Linked DNA regions of Homo sapiens: region 2 is linked to region 1. The links come from fine-mapping of genetic effects on gene expression. A gene starts in region 1. The other region holds a variant in brackets. All regions are shown on one strand. Distances are from middle to middle.

Region 1 (5,365 bases):
TCTGCAAGGCACGCAAGACTCCTCACCTTCTGCTTTGGGGGTCCCTCTGACCCAAGTTGGCCCCCACCTTGTCCAGTCAAGCCACTGACCCAGTGTGTTTTCTGGCCAGTCAGATACTCCCACCCTTGGGTCTCTGCAGCCCTCGCCTCTGGGCAAAGGCCTGTGCTGGGGTTACCAGCAGGGTCGGATTCCAACCTATTCTGGAAGGTTGAAGGGGTGGGATATAAAAGAAAGTGGAGGTGGAGGTAGGGATGGGCTGAGGGGCCAAAAGATGTACTGGGGAAGGGGGCATTTCTTGGGGTCCTCCAACGTCCTGGCTCACGAGCTTCCCCCTCCAAGGGAGCAACCTGAGGTGCACAGAGTGGCCTTGTGACAAGGACACAGAACCCACCTCCACCTTGGCTTGGGACTCCTGCAGCCTATGCAGCCAGCTCATCCGTCACCCACCCTCTTCTCCTGGTATCTGCCACTCTGGAACTTCCCTCTACCTCTGGGCTCTGCCTTCAGCCAGGGTTGGGGACAGCAGGTAGGCAGATCCCATCGCAGACAGGCCTGCCTTCCTCAGGGCCTCGCTTAAATCCACAGGAATCTGCTGGGGCTCTGCCCTCTGGCTGGGGCAGGTGGAACTGGCCAGATTGGCGGTGGGGGGACCACTGTGCTTGCCATAGGGACTGGCCCAGCTGCCCCACAGGGGAGCACATTGGAGTAACAGGGGAGGCTGACCCGAGCCTGGCCCGGCTCCACACTCCCCACCCCCACCCCACCATCAGGGACTCGCATTTAATTGTCATTCATTTCCCCTCTCTGAATTCAAACTAGGCACAGATCAAATGATTCCATGATGACAAACTGCCTGTCTCAACTGACCAGATTCCACTGGCAAACACTCCGCTGACCTTGGGCAGCTCCCTCTGCTCCCACCTCCTCTGGCCCTTGTGCTTCTGGGGCTTTGTGGAGTAGCTGGACATCAATGATAACACTAACAGTAGCCGGCCTGCCACCAAGTTCTTTACATAGGGGATGCCTATGTCTGTGCTTCATTGGCGTCATCTCACAAGGCCCTGAGCTGGCAGGAAATTGAGGTCTCAAGGGGAAAAGCCACCTGCCCCCAGTGACAACCAGGAAGTGCAAGACTCTGACCCAACGCCCATGCCTGCCATCCCCAAACATGGGCTCAAAACCCCCTTCCCAGGGACGGCTGTGTCCACCCCTCAGCAGGAGGAGGAGACCCCACAGCACCGGGTGAGAGGTCAGTGCTGAAGCCAGGGAGGCAGCTCTCAGCAGGGCACCTGTGTGGAGCCAGGGAAGCCAGGGCCACACTTGCAGGGTGAAGTGGGGAACTCGGAAGGCTGGGCAGTGGAGCAAAATGCTTGGTGCCCTGCGGGAACCGGTGGCCAAGGCTACACTGGGATGAAGGGAGCCGTGGAGCTGCAGAATCTGCGGGTGGCCCTCAGTGGCAGGCAGCCAGGCCAACAGGGGCTTTGGGCTGCAGGTCAGCCCCTCCCCTGCTCTGGAACTTTTGGAGGGCCATTACAAAGGACATCAGCCCCAAGATACTCCTCTGAAATTCTGCCTGAAAGGCCCTTCACATTCCCTAATTGGCACTTACAACATTCCAGAACATTCTATGGTACCTTAAGTTTCTCCTCCCCCTCCAAAGGGCCCTTGAACCTTAAGGATAGGGCAGAAGGGGCTCCTCACCCTGGCCTCGAGGGCTTAAGATCCAGCTGAGGACTCCTAGCCTCCCTGTGTGCTGGGCAGGAAAGTAGCTCCATGTCACTGCTGTCCCTGGGAAAGGAAAAAAGGTTGAGGAAGGGCTCAGAGCCAGCCTTCAGACCAGGCAGGAAGGGTTCAGAGCCAGCCTTCAGGCCATGCAGGCCTCCTGGATGTGCTTACTAACTCTGGGCTCGCTGTTCTCTGAGCTGGCTGGGAGTTCCCCTCTGCACCCCCGTTTCCTCCCCTGTAAGGTGGGAATAATAGCGTATGTCTCTAGGATTAAGTGAGCCAGTCATGCATGGGCCGAGAACCAGGTTTGGCATATTGTAGCTGCTCAGTGGACGTTAGCTGTTATGATTGGACCACAACGTGCTTCCGTTTCAATTCTGTGGGCCTTTTGGAGGTCCTGCTGGATGCTAAGCACCGAAACCTCAACCCGGAACAAGACCAGAACAACCTGAGCAACAACAGGACCAGCGATGGCTCTCCCTGCTGGAGGATTCTGGAAGTCACCTGGCTGGACCAAGCCCTCTCCGTGTTCTCTGTCAGCCCACTCCCCAGAGCCGCTAGGCCTGATGTGCACAAGCAGACTAATAAAGGCTTGAGGACAAAAAGGGTTTTGAGTGATAAGTGAAAAAAGAAAGGAGATAGGGCTGGGCCAACAGGCCTTCCCTTGGTGGTGGGGAGCCCTCAGAGGTGGGAGGAACCCCAGAGGTGAAGAGAGGGACATGGTGGGGGCACAAAAAAAGCTTCCAGAGCCACAGGCCTGGGCGAGTCCTGACATGGAGCCCAGTCTCATACGGCCTCTTTCCCTAGTGGCTGGCTTTGCTCCTGGCCCTAGGTAGCCCAACAGCTGGGCAAGGGGTCCGTCTGGTCAGGGGAAAGGTGCAGGGGCAGAAGGTAGCAGAGGGAGAAAAGGACACCCTGTCTGCCTCTGGCCCCAAAGACAAGTCCGAATGGGGCCAGAGGGAAATGGCTGGGCCTTGGGGTGCCCCAGGGTCTTGGAGGGGACCGGGTGTTCAGGTTTCGCACAAGTACAGGAGGGACCGGCGACCGCCCTCCCCCCGCCCCGGGAGGCTCCGCCAGGGACAGGCGTCCCCGGGATTGGAGGTGACCCCCGTGGGTTCCGAAGCCCCGCCTCGGCCATGCACTGTCTACTAGGCGCGCTTGGGGAGCCTAGGGGCCGTCTCGGAGAAATGGGGTGGTCCCCGCCAGGCGGCGGCGGGGCGGGCCCTGGGCGCCGAAGGGGTTAAGGCACCTGGGCCACCGCCCCTGCCGGCCCCTCCTCCCGCGGCCGGGAAGAGGAAAGTCGCGGCGGGGGCGCGGCCCGGTCTCCGTCCCCACCCGCCCGCCGTCCCGCCGGCCCGAGCCGTGGCGCCCAGAGCTGCGAGCCGCTCGCCCCTCCGCCGCTCCGGCCCGGGCCGCCATGTCGCTGTGGTGAGTGGGGCTGGGGGCCGTCGGGGGCCTGGGCGGGGGCGTGGGCCCGGGGCTCCCCCTCCTCCGTGGCCACAGACGGGCGCCGGGACTCCCGGGATAGGAGATGCCCCCGCGCGCGCCGCGCCGGCCTCAGTTTCCCGGGGGCGGATGGGCGGGCGGGCGCGGCGGCGGCGGCGGGAGATGTTCGCGGTACGCGGCCCCGGACCCGTGGGGGACGTCGAGGGGTCTCGGGGCGCCGCGCTCAGCTCCCCGGCCCCGCGGCCCTGGACACCGCTCCAGGACCCTGGCGGCTGGGACCCCAGGTCTTGCCGGCAGCTGGGTCCCCTCTCCCTTCCAGACCCCTGAGGGCCCCCTGCGTCCGGGCCACTCTCCTCCTCTCGGGGCTTCCTTCCGCGGGACCTCGGACCGCCGCCCGCCCGGCCCCTCTCCGCCCCTCCCGGGCTTTCCCTACGAATGGAGCGGACCCGGCAGGTGGAGCGCCCGCAGCCCAGGGCCTCGCCGCCTTCCCGGTGCACCCCCCGACCTCCCCCGTCCCGGCCTCGGTGGGCGGCTTCCCTGGAACCCCTAGGGCTGGCAGGGCCGGATCCGGAGCCCTCCGTTTCCTCCCCGGAGAGCTGGACCTTGGGTCACACCCCCCAGCCTGCACCTAAGGTGCCCCTGTCTTCCTCCAACCACATGCCCCAGCAACCTGGGGACCCTATGGGGAAAATGTCGCTCTATGGGGCTCAGCCTGCATTCACCCTGGGGCCTGGACCTGCAACCGGACCAGCCCTCAGGGCAACCCAGGCGTCTCCACGGGCTGCCTGTCTCTCCTGGCACCCTGCTCCTCCCCCTTGGAGGTCAGCGCCATCTCTCTGCTAGGCTGGCCCTGGAAGGCCACTCTGCTGTCCCCAGAGCTCTCAGCCCCCAGGTCTCCACTGGGGAGGGTGGGGCAGGTGTCCTGGCAGCCCCCGGAGGGTGAGATGAAGAGAGGAGGTCCTTCAGGACAGGGGCTCAGGCCCCAGGGCTTGGGACGACCAGCACTCCTGGCAGAGAGCTCTAATTTCTGCTTCCGAAATGGGTGTGGACCGGGGTTGGGGTGGGGGGGTCTCTGGGCAAGAAGGGTCCCTCAAGGGCTGGAGCTGCAAATGTGCCCCCTCCCAGGGAGTAGAGCTGTAGCCTCATGTCTTCTAATGGGGTGTTATGAGCTGGGGATGTTAAGGTAGGGGTGAGGGGCAGTGCCATGCTAGAGGTGCTCACTGCATCCTTGGGCCTCCATCAACCATGAGGGCTGCTCTTTGTTGGGTGAGACAGACTGGAGAAGGGGGAGGAGGGCCAGTCTTCCTCAGGTCCCAAGCTCGAGCCACTCTCCAATGTGCCCCACATGTGATGGAGCTCCCGGGCGGCACAGAGGATCAGAGGGTGCCCTCTCAATGACTCTGGCTCTGAGTCACCTAATGATACCGATACCTACTGCTGTGGGTAGGTACACCGCAGGGAAATGAAAGGCATTGGGGTTCCAGGCGTGGGGAACAGGGCAGAGGTTTCCACCTGAGGCCCTCCTGTTAAGGTGACAGCATTCCCCTAACTGTGCACCCGCTGCCTGGTACTTTATATAGCACTCCAATCCTGTGTTTTAGCCCCATTTGGGGGAAGAAGAAATCGTGGCTCAGAGTGGTTGTAAACCACTCATTCAGCTTGTAAGCGTCAGGGCCTGATTCCACAGTGCTCCTTGAGGAGAGGGCAGGGTGGGAGAAAGAAAGGGCAGGGTGGGAGAGGAAGCGGGACCCTACCCTGACAGCTTAGGGACTCCGGGACTGAGCCTGTGCCCAGGTCCACTTGCCCGTCTGGGACCACCCAGCCTCCCAAGGGGGGCGCCAGGAGAGCCCTGGGCTCATCTTTTCTCTCTCCTCTGTACTGTCCGCTCTCCCCCACAGGAAGAAAACCGTCTACCGGAGTCTGTGCCTGGCCCTGGCCCTGCTCGTGGCCGTGACGGTGTTCCAACGCAGTCTCACCCCTGGTCAGTTTCTGCAGGAGCCTCCGCCACCCACCCTGGAGCCACAGAAGGCCCAGAAGCCAAATGGACAGCTGGTGAACCCCAACAACTTCTGGAAGAACCCGAAAGATGTGGCTGCGCCCACGCCCATGGCCTCTCAGGGGCCCCAGGCCTGGGACGTGACCACCACTAACTGCTCAGCCAATATCAACTTGACCCACCAGCCCTGGTTCCAGG
Region 2 (5,365 bases), 27 kb after region 1:
GAGATAGCCAGGAAAAGATAAGCCAACTTAAACAGAAAAGCTAGGAGGAGCCAGGTAACTCAGAATGGTAGGTGTGCTAGATTGAACAATGTGTGTCTAAAGTCACACACAAACAAAACAATTTCGACCTATGTGTTTTAAAATTAAAAAACAAGAAGTAGCTGGGCACAATGGCTCACACCTGTAATCCCAACACTTTGGGAGGCCCAGGTGGGAGGATTGTTTGAACCTGGGAGTTCAAGACCAGCCTGGGAGACCCATCTCTACAAAAAATTTAAAAGATGAGCCCTGCGTGGTGGTGCACACCTGTGGTTCCAGCTATCAGGGAAGCTGAGGCAGGAGGATCGCTTGAGCCCAGGAAGTCGAGGCTGTAGTGAGCCATGTTTGCACCACTACACTCCAGCCTGGATGACAGAGCAAGACCCTGTCTCAAAAAGGAAAAAAGAGAAACCAAAAGGACCTCCATAAAACAAGAAGTAGCAGGCAGTTGGGTGCAGTGGCTCACCCTGTAATCCCAGCACTTTGGGAAGCTCCCTTGAGCCCAGGAGTTCCAGACAAGCCTGGGCAACATCGTGAGACTCCATCTCTACAAAAAATTCAAAAATCAGCCAACGCGGTGGTGCACCCTTGTAGCCCTAGCTACTCAGCAGGTTGAGGCAGAAGGATCGCTTGAGCCCAGGAGTTCAAGGTTACAGTGAGCTATGATCGTGCCACTACACTCCAGCCTGAGCAATAGAGCAAGACCTTGTCTCAAAAAAAAAAAAAAAAAAAAAAAGTAGCAGACAAAGAGCATGAGCTCATAAAGGGTCATCTGGACTGAAATCTGGGGGTGAAGGAGAGGGCAGGGCCCCAGCACCCCAGCAGCCTGGACACACTCCTGCGCCAGGTGCAGCCCCCTTTTCAGGGGATGAATGGGGGACTTGTCTTCCTCTGCATTCCTTGACCAGCCTGAGTGCCAGCCTCACCTCACTGGCGCTGGAGGAAAAGCAGTGGCCTACGGAGACCCCAGTCCCAGGCTGGCTCCTGTTCTTGCTCCAGACAGAACTTTTGAAGCCCTTGGTGTTGCTAAAAGTGCTTGTTTCTTGGCCCCGCTCCTCTCACTCTGGGGACTAGGAGGGCTGAGGCTGTTATCCAGGTTGACAGGGACTGCTTTGTCCCTCGGTCAGGGCTCTGTCCTCACAACCTTTCCGGGCCTTCTCAGAGTCTGTGGGCCACCCATTTGGCCACCCACACTGCTGAGGGTCACCGGGCAGAAAATGCGGAGTTTCTGCATTCCATTTGAAGCTGCTTGGTGTTCCGTCTGAACAAACCATGGTGTATTTAACCAGCCTCTGTGGATGGACGGTGCTAGATCAGTCCTTGTTAATGTAACATCACTCCCATCCCCTTCTACATCTCCCTGCATTTCCAGAGCCCCTTTCCAGTATGTCCTAGGCTGAATTCTGCCCATGAAGGAAGCAGAAGCCATTGGTCTCCAGCAGCTACTATGGTTAGGCAGCAAAACTCATGGCAGACTCCTTTCCTCGGCTTCTGGGCATCACCCTGCATGACCCCCACTGCAGTGCTATAAGCAGCTGAGATCCAGCCAGACACAGTGGCTCACACCTGTAATCCCAGCACTTTGGGAGGCCAAGGCTGGCGGATCACTTGAGGTCAGGAGTTCGAGACCAGCCTGAGATCCTTGGTGACAGCTTCCGGCAGCTCCAGGTGTCCCCCTGGGCATCATGTGCTTTGGCCCTGCCAGCACCGAGGATCACTGGTGATGACTTCCCTGCCATCTCCTAACTTCTAGAACTTTCCTGGCCTTTCCTCTCCCAGCCCTTCCAATGCTTCTCTTTCTGCTCAAAATACCTAGAGTGGCTTCTGTTTTCTTGATTGAACCCTGACTGCTACAAACAATACCCTCGCATATCCTGCACATGCCAGGAACACATGCCAGTCTATCTGTAGTATAAGTTACTAGAAGTCAAATTTTCAGGTCAGTTTCAAGGTTGCTGGTGTATTAGTTTGCTAGGGCTGCCATAACAGAGAACCACAGACTGGGTGGCTTAAACAACGGAAAATTTATTTCCTCACAGTCTGAGGCTGAAGTCTGAGATTAAGATGTTGGCAGAGTTAGTTTCACTCTATGGGTGTATGTGTCCAAATTTCCTCTTCTTATAAAGACATCTGTCATATTGGATTAGGGCCCCACCCTAACAATCTCATTTTAACTTAATTCCCTCTTTAAAGACCCTGTCTCCAAATACAGTCACATTCTGAGGTACTGGAGGTTAGGACTTCAGCGTGTGAATTTTGAGGGGATGCAACTCAGTCCATAACAGATAACTAGCTATTCCCAACTCACCCTCCCTGGCAATTGTCCCAAACAGCAGGTACATGAAATGTGTCAGCAAACCTGGTGATCATCACCAATCTAACAGGTAAGAAAATGCACATAGTGTTGTTTTAATTTGCATTTCTCCTACTCTGAGTGACATTAACATCTTTTCATGTGTTTGAATCATTCATATTTCCTTTCCTGAGAAAGATTTGTACAGGACAATTTTCTAGGTGACCTTAAACCAGCCCGGTTCTCCCATCTTTCTTGCTTGTAGTTCTGAAAATTAACTGTAGAATGTGCTAGAAATGCAACATCTTGAGATAAGGGGGAGCTGGCCAGAACTGCTCAGGCTCTGTTCCAGTTCCGCCTTAGAAACAGGGTGGCTCATGCCTGTAATCCCAGCACTTTGGGAGGCCAAGGCAGGCAGATCACCTGAGGTCAGGAGTTCAAGACTAGCCTGGCCAACATGGTGAAACCCCGTCTCTACCAAAAATACAAAAAATTAGCCAGGCATGGTGGCAGGCACCTGTAATCCCAGCTACTCGGGAGGCTGAGGCAGAAGAATTGCTTAAACCCGGGAGGTGGAGGTTGCGGTGAGCCAAGATCGCACCACTGTACTCCAGCCTGGGCAACAAGAGCGAGACTCTGTCTCAAAAAAAAAAAAAAGAAAAGAAACAGGGTGTCCTTCAACACTGTAGCTCAGCCACTCACAGAGCATAAAGCTCAGGGCAGGCTGCTTTTCAGGGTTCTTCAGCCATGGTGCAGGTGGGACGCATGAAGTCAAGATTCCATCAGCCCTGGGCAGCTGGCCTGAGCCTGGGGAACTGGCTCTGAATGAATCCTAGGCCTCTGTTGCCCCTTGCTGCCAATCTGTAATAAATC[C/G]TCATCGTGTAACTGGGTACATGTGAGTGTGTTCCGTCTCACCAGATGCCGACAAGTTGGTAAGCCGCGCACGGTGAGCCTGCTTCGCGGTTGGTTCATATCCTTTGCCTATTTTTCTATTGGCTTATTTGTCTTTGTCTTTGTCTTTTTTTCCATTGCGACACCTACTAAAATGGGATTGACTTTTACTTATTTGTTGAAGGGGTTCATTAAAGACATTTATCTGATATGCACTGAAAATATTTTTCCATTTGTCATCTATCTTTTGACTTTGTTCATAATTTTTCTGTGATACAGTGATATTTTAATGTAAATTTTCCATCTTTTCCTTAATGGCTTCTAGGTACTATGTCGTTATTCTTAGAAAGTCCTCTCCTACCCAAAAAGCACTGAAAATTTAAAAATTAAAAACAAGACTGGACGTGGTGGCTCACACCCGTAATCCCAGCAATTTGGGAGGCCGAGGCGGGTGGGTCACGAGGTCAGGAGTTTGAGACCAGCCTGGCCAGCATGATGAAACCCCGTCTCTACTAAAAATACAAAAATCAGCCGGGCCTGGTGGCGCATGCCTGTAATCCCAGCTACTAGGGAGGCTGAGGCAGGAGAATTGCTTGATCCTGGGGGGCGGAGGTTGCAGTGAGCCGAGATCGCGCCATTGCACTCCAGCTCTGGGCAACAGAGCAAGACTCTGTCTTGGAAAAAATAAATAAATAAAAATTAAATTTAAAAAGCTCTTTCCAACTTTAAGTTATAAAATAAATTTTCCATATTTTCTTCTAGTACTGTCATATTTCACTTTTTACATTAACATATTTGATCCACCTGAAATGTATTTTAATATAAGACATGAGGTATTGCTGGGCGTGGTGGCTCATGCCTGTAATCTCAGCACTTTTGGAGGCCAAGGCAGGATGATCACTTGATTCCAGGAGCACAAGATCAGCCTGAGCAACATAGTGACACCCCATTTCTACAAATAATAGTCTAAAAATATTAGCCAGGAGTGGTGGTGTGTGCCTGTGGTCCTAGCTACTCAGGAGACTGACAGGAGTATCACCTGAACCTGGGAGCAGTGAGCCATGATCACACCACTGCACTCCAGCCTGGGTGACAGAGTGAGACCCTGTCTCAAAAAAAAAAGATATTAATATAATTTTTCCTCTAGGCAGATGGTATTCCAGTTACGCCAACACCAGTGGAAGTGGCAGATTTATTACGTACTGAATTATCGTGTGGACTTGGGTCTAATTCCATGTTTCCTGGGCACATTTGAGACCTCTGCACTTCTCAAACCTCTGACTCTGACATCTCCCCTCTTTTCATCAGATGACCTTGCCTTTTAATTCAAAGAGCACGTGGAAGGACTCGTGGGAAGAGCACCTCCAGTTTAAAAACAAAAGACCCATCCCCTGCTTGCCTCCACCTGAGTCTCAGAGCCCACCCTTCCCAAGCGCTTAGGACCACTGTCTCTCTTCTGTGGTCAACATCCATTGCTCCACTAATCCTTCTCCATAGCCTTTTCTTTTCTTTTCTTTTCTTTTTTTTTTTTTTTTTTGAGACGGGGTCTCATTCTGTTGCCCAGGCTGGAGTGCAGTGGTGCCATCTCGGCTCACTGCAACCTTTGCCTCCCAGGTTCAAGCGATTCTCACACCTCAGCCTCCCAAGTAGCTGAGATTACAGGCACCTGCCAACACGCCCAGCTAATTTTTGTATTTTTAGTAGAGACAGGGTTTCACCATGCTGGCCTCGAACTCCTGACCTTATGTGACCCGCCCACCTCAGCCCCCCAAAGTGCTGGGATTGCAGGCCTGAGCCACCGCGCCTAGCTCCATGGCCTTTTAAATGGGCTCAAGACTTTTACGTGTTGAAAACAAACAAAAACAAGAAACTCCTTCAACCCCATGAACCTCTTCAGCTGTGTCCCTACTCTCATCCCACAGCCACATTCCCTGAGGGAATTGTAGTCTCTGCAGTCCCGTTCCCCAGTTACTCCTCAAGACCCTGCACCCCGCTCATCCAGAGTCAGAAATAGTGGAGAGTTCTTGGTCTTGCTTGGTGTCTGGTCTGTCCTCCCAGCTCTGAACGACCACATCCTCTGCCAACATCAAGCAGGACTTCAGCTGGACAGGATGTGGCTCATGACAGCCACTTTCACATGGT

Direction of the effects. Positions count from the first base shown, and alleles are read on the strand shown. Sizes are in standard deviations (SD) of each study's normalised expression.
With allele G in place of C in region 2, the expression in atrial appendage of the gene that starts at base 3,049 in region 1 is lower (moderate effect, 0.41 SD a copy in GTEx).

The links. PIP is the estimated chance that this variant, and not a neighbour inherited with it, causes the effect. A credible set is the group of variants that fine-mapping cannot tell apart.
Region 2: its variant is the best candidate, but not a certain one, in a credible set for the expression of B3GNT7 in atrial appendage (GTEx, PIP 0.87).

Annotation. Positions count from the first base shown.
Region 1 is chr2:231,392,662-231,398,026 of GRCh38, forward strand. B3GNT7 (UDP-GlcNAc:betaGal beta-1,3-N-acetylglucosaminyltransferase 7) reads left to right here and starts at 3,049. Exons shown (of 2, transcript NM_145236.3): 1 at 3,049-3,153; 2 at 5,070-5,365. The coding sequence starts at 3,143. RefSeq lists enhancers at 671-1,253, 1,254-1,835, 2,131-2,180, 4,449-5,365, 4,591-4,660 and 1 more and a silencer at 2,731-3,200.
Region 2 is chr2:231,420,145-231,425,509 of GRCh38, forward strand. No RefSeq gene overlaps it. Among named protein-coding and RNA genes, the nearest start is that of B3GNT7, 27 kb to the left of the region's middle. RefSeq lists an enhancer at 259-759. The variant C/G (reference allele first, on the strand shown) is at 3,206.